Linked DNA regions of Homo sapiens: region 1 is linked to region 2. The links come from fine-mapping of genetic effects on gene expression. A gene starts in region 2. The other region holds a variant in brackets. All regions are shown on one strand. Distances are from middle to middle.

Region 1 (2,908 bases), 840 kb before region 2:
GTGTGAGGACAACTCAGACTGGACTTCCTGTCTGAGGCAGAAGAGGAAGGACAAAGGCTCCTGGGAACTGCAGTCTCCTCTGAAATGCTGAGCTCAAAGCAGGACCTCATTTCATATATGCAAGTCATCATAGACTCTGAGATATGGGTTAGATACCAAGATGTGTATTTAGCCAGGAAGCATGTTTCCATGGCAATTTTATATTCCTATGTTTGCCTTTCTTTCTCCAACCAGTGTGTTAATTCGATTCAGAGCCTCTGCAGGCCTTGCCCATCTGCAAAGCAGGTGGGGCCTCAGCTGCTTCAACAGCTGCCAATAATCCTAGAAAATTAAGCCAAAACCCAGACAATCATGATCACCATGGTTATCTTGTGATCGCCTGCCATATTTTAAGCATTTTTTTTTTAATTCAGAGACAGTCACAAAGATTTAGGACAATGAAGGTCATTGTTGCATTATTAGTAGCAGCAAAATACTAGAAATCATTTTAAAGTCCAACAAGAGGGGATTTTTAAAGTAAATCATGGTACCTTTCACGTGATGGGATATTCTGAAACCATTAAAATCACTCTGGGAGACTATTTCATCATGAGGGTAAAGTACATGATAGAATATAAAGTGGAAAAACAGGGTCTCCAAATAGGCCATACAGTATGATCCCAATTTGGAATGTCTAAAAGGTGAGGTGTGTGCTCCAGAGAGCTGATTTCACACAGTTCCACCAAAGTACCAAAGCTGGCTCTTTCCTTGTGACCTCACCACTGCCCATCCAGGTAGTGTATGGGCTCACAAGTGTACTTGACCTTTCAAGAGAGGCACTGGCCACACAAAGTAATTTGCAGCAGCATCTCAGGGAACGGAGGGCCAACACTTGTGTCAGTTGGTCCATGTGCCAGAGACTCACTGGCTGGCCTCCATGGGCACTCCTAGCACAGTGGCAGGGAGGGAACTGCAGACTTAGTTCCCCAGCACCAGTAATACAAACGCTTACCTACACTGGGCAAGCGGGCAATGGGGCCTGTGGCAGCTCCCCTGGGGCTCTCATTGCCAGCAACAGATGGTGCTCACTCAGTCAGAGGCAACTCAGTACTGGTCCCCTCAGGTGGGTCTACATAGTTCCCCTTAAACCCACCAATTTCTTTCTCTAGGCAAGTGTTCTGTGCCTTCCATTCCCCCCACATGACTTTCCCCATAAGGAGATTCTTCATCTCCCCTAGGAGATGGGGACCTGGCTCCACTTTCCTTCTTGTTTTGTTTTGGTTTCGTTTGGTTTCTTGTTTTTGTTTTGTTGTTGTTGTTGTTGTCGTTGTTGTTTTTGAGACAGAGCCTTGCTCTTGTTGCCCAGGCTGTAGTGCAGTGGCGTGATCTCAGCTCTCTGCAATGTCCACCTCCAAGGTTCAAGTGATTCTCACACCTCAGCCTCATGAGTAGCTGGGACTACAGGCACGCGCCACCACACTCGGCTAAGTTTTTTTGTATTTTTAGTAGAGACAGAGTTTCACCATGTTGGTCAGGCTGGTCTCAAACTCCTGACCTCAAGC[G/A]ATCCACCCACCTCGGCCTCCCAAAGTGCTGGGATTACAGGCGTAAGCCACCGCGCCTGGCCTTCCCTTCTTGTTTACCTCATTCAATTTTATGCACTTAATTATTCAGGACATGGACTTTCAGAATATTCACATCCCAGAGCTTGACTTTCAACGCTTTTAATTCTGATATAAGCACCAAAAGGCAATGTTGAACCTTTAAGAAGTGATGGGGTGGGCCTACGGGTGGGACTGTTAGAAATGCCACAGGACAGAGCACAAGGGAATGAGGTAGGGGGCGAGGACCTAGGATAGGATCTCAAAGTTGTATCCTACCACATAAATATTTGCATAGAATTAAGTATTGAAGAGACATACACCCTTAATAATCATTACAATTATCTCCATATAGAGGGATGAGGGATGACTTTTATCTTCTGCTATATTTTTTCAAATTTTCTGCTATGAACATATATTACAATAGAAATGTATTTTATGCCAGGATTCATTTCCAATGACAGTTTGTAATGTGAAAAATTATGTATAGTCAATGTCAAATTCATTTAATTGTCTACTATATATGGTACTCAGACACATATTTAATCAACCCAACCAGTAATTCCTGTTGCACTGGAACAGATAGCTGTTTCTTTAGCTAAGCACTAGATGAGGTAGTCAGCTTGCATTTAAAGTTCATGCTGTATGAAAAATAAGCATCTTTAAACCCTGGAATCACATACATTTAGCTGACTTTGCTTACGTTGAGTACATTTATAATGCAATTGCCCTGTACCCATAAAATCAGAAAAAGAAGCTATATTAAAAATGCATTACACAAAAAAAAACTATTGAAGGAAATAACTTCAATACCCAACAACAAAAAAGACCCTGGGTCTTTCAGAGTGGCTCATGCCTATAATCCTGCACTTTGGGAGGCCAAGGCGGGAGGACCACTTGAGTCCAGGAGTTCGAGGCTGCAGTAAGCCCTGATCATGATCATGACACTACTCTCCACCTTGGATGACAGAGCAAAACCTGTCAAAAAAAACCAAAAACAAAACAAAAAAACACAACAACAGAAAAAAAACCTGATTACTCAAGAAGCTATGTAATCCTTTTTAATTCCCAAAAAATAATGCCCTGCTATTTGCCAACTATGACACTTACTAGATATAAATCAAATAAATCATTCTCCTGATCTGCAGGGCATAACTGGACAGAGTAAATACTCAATGAATACTATTCACAGTTAGTCTGGATGTACAGGGACTTACTGGAACTGGCCAGCCTGGCTAGGATGGAACTAGTCAGATAACCATGCAGAGCATATGTAAATATCAGATCACAGAATTTCAGCGATGGACAAGACAAGACAGAGAGGATCTGAG
Region 2 (2,908 bases):
AGGAGGCGGAGCTTGCAGTGAGCCAAGATCATGCCACTGCACTCCAGCCTAGGCGACACAGCGAGACTCTGTCTCAAAAAAAAAGAGAAAAATGATCAGGTTGGGATGGGCCTATACCCTAGTTATTTTTTTTTATTTTTATTTTTTGAGACAGAGTCTCACTCTGTTGCCCAGGCTGGACTGCAGTGGCACAATCTCCGCTCACTGCAACCTCCAGCTCCCAGGTTTAACCATGTCTGGCTAATTTTTGTATTTTTAGTAGAGATGGGGTTTTGCCATGTTGGCCATGCTGGTCTTGAACTCCTGGCCTCAAATGATCCGCCTGCTTCAGCCTCCCAAAGTGCTGAGATTACAGGCATGAGCCACCGCGCCTGGCCTTGAATATTTCTACAATGATGGAATGTACCTGTTAATACAGTGTGTCTTATCAAACACATGCTGCCAAGGAGAGCACTGGGTATTCTTCCAGTGTAAAGTAGATTCCTAGGCAGTCTAGGGAGTCAGGAAAGGCTTCCCTGAGGATGAGATGGAAGAGGGACTGAGGGCCCAAAGTGGCTGAAAGACAGAGAGCCAATAGGAGGAAGTCCAGTTACAGAGGGCCAGGATTTGGGTTTTTAACCATTTAATGGTTATAAACTGAGACTAACATACTCAGATTTAGACTTTACAAAGATCAGCAAGTATAATGGATTGGAAGGATCAAGAATTAATCCCAGCCTGACCAACACAACCTCCACTTCCTCCTCCCAGCAGTTTGGAATCCTTACCTTTTGCAATAGTATACGTTCATTCATTTATTATGCATTCGATAATATTTACTGAGAGCCTACTATGTGCCAAACATTATCCTAGAGGTTAAGAGGGGACAAGAGCAAAGGGTCAGCAGTCTAGGGGTGAGATGGAGTCAAAAGGACGGCAGGTCAGCTGGAATGATGAGAACAGCAGTGGAGAGCCTTTAAAAGTGCCTTGGACTGGACCGATTACCTTCTAAATGCCGGCGCCCGGAAAAATCACTAACACCCTTTGGACTTACGTATTTCCATCTTTGTAAAATGGGAACCTACCTCGCAAGGGATGTTGCAACAATCGAAGAAAACTATGCACAATGCTTGACATCCAGTGGGTCCTCAGTAAATAGCCTAAGAAGGAAGCAAGGTTATGGTTACTTCTGGAAGAGGTGGCTTGGGGGCTGCGACAGGTGCAGCGATTGCCTGATGATAACATCTAGAAAAGCCCTTGCTGGGCAGAGGGGCAGCCGACGACCCCCGCCACTCAGCGAGTCTCCAGGTTTCCCGGAAACGCTAGCTCCAGTGACTTCTCAGATGCCCCTATGGGACCCCACCCAGGGCTGCCGCCGCCACCACCTACTGCAGCCGAAGCGGATGCACCTCGCGACTTTCCCCGCAGCCGCTGCCGGGGCCACAGCGAGGTCATGACGCCCGTGACGCATACGCAGCCAGCACGCACGCGCGCGGCGTGGCCCGCCCCCCCCTCCCACCCCGGAGGCGGGGCCGTGAGTCCCGGGCTCCGCCCCGGAGCGTCGGGCCCCTCCCCGGGCCCCGCCTCCAGCTCGCCTAGGACCGCTTGGAGCCGGCAGCTCGCCTGCCAAACCCGGCTGGGAACGCCTGGCAGCTTTTAGGAGGGGGCGGGCCCGGGGGTGGTGGCCCCAGGAGCGGTTGCCGCGGGGACCGGGCAGTGACGCGGCCCAAGGGCGGAAGTGAGAAAGTTGTCTGCGTCTCGAGGCGAGTTGGCGGAGCTGTGCGCGCGGCGGGGCGATGGGGGGCTCGGGCAGTCGCCTGTCCAAGGAGCTGCTGGCCGAGTACCAGGTGCGCGGGACGCCTGGCCCTGGGGAGCTCGCGTGCGGGCCTCTTCTCGGGAGCAGGGTCCGGGAGCTGGCTGCGGGGCGGCCGCGGCCTCCCAGCGGTCCGCTAATCCCCGCTCTGGCTTTGCCTTCCAGGACTTGACGTTCCTGACGAAGCAGGAGATCCTCCTGTAAGTGCTGCCTTGAACCCTGCCTCCGACCCCGGGATCCTCTAGAGACAGCTTCGGGGGCGCTGTCCCGAGGGAGGGGCGGGGGCTGGCCTGAGGTCTGCAGAGGAGCGGGAGCTGGAGGCCGGGAGACCTAGCCCGGGCTGCGCCCTCCTCCCGGCACGCCCTCCCCGCCCTCGCCTGAGGCCCCAGCGTGGCACCGCGGAGCCACCTTACAGCCTCCAGGAAAAGTTAGGCGCTCTTTGACCCTGGGCTCCACTAGCTTCAGCACTGCCGAACTTCCTGCCCCAGTCCGGCAGGGGCCGACCTTGCCCAGTGGCTAAACCACAGAAGCCTTGGGGAGCCCGGCTCCTTCTCCCAACTTTACCTGAATAATACAGTAACCGTTATCGCTTTCTGAGCACTCACCATGTGCCAGGGACTGTGCTAAATGGTTGCCTGCGTTACCTAATTTAATCTTTAGGAGAGAGGTACTGGACAATGAAACAGGTTCAGAAAGGTTTGGTAACTGCTTAAGACAACACTCTGAGTAAGTAGATTTGAACTTGGGCTGGAAGCCCTTTTGCCGGATTTATGCAGGCCAGGTTCCTGTGGCAAAGATAAGCTCATGGGAAGGAGGTGGAGGCCGAGGAGGACAGTTCAGTGTGGTTGCTAAAAAGGAGGCTTTGAGGGTAAGAGATCCCTGGAGTGAAGGTGAGAATGAGATTTTTGGTTTTGCTCTTTTCTCCGTTTTTTTTTTTTTGAGACAGCGTCTCGCTCTGTCGCCCAGGCTGGAGTGCTGGGGCACGATCTTGGCTCACTGCAGGCTCTGCCTCCGGGTTCAAGTGATTCTCCTGCCTCCGGGTTCAAGTGATTCTCCTGCCTCAGCCTCCTGAGTAGCTGGGATTATAGGCACCCGCCACCATGCCCGGCTAATTTT

The links. PIP is the estimated chance that this variant, and not a neighbour inherited with it, causes the effect.
Region 1: its variant is fine-mapped to the expression of GDPGP1 in pancreas (GTEx, PIP 0.99).

Annotation. Positions count from the first base shown.
Region 1 is chr15:91,073,204-91,076,111 of GRCh38, reverse strand. No RefSeq gene overlaps it. Among named protein-coding and RNA genes, the nearest start is that of SV2B, 26 kb to the left of the region's middle. The variant G/A (reference allele first, on the strand shown) is at 1,542.
Region 2 is chr15:90,232,753-90,235,660 of GRCh38, reverse strand. GDPGP1 (GDP-D-glucose phosphorylase 1) reads right to left here and starts at 1,452. Exons shown (of 4, transcript NM_001013657.3): 1 at 1,369-1,452; 2 at 1,065-1,139. CIB1 (calcium and integrin binding 1) reads left to right here and starts at 1,720. Exons shown (of 7, transcript NM_006384.4): 1 at 1,720-1,826; 2 at 1,958-1,992. The coding sequence starts at 1,776. RefSeq lists silencers at 1,318-1,757, 1,778-2,227.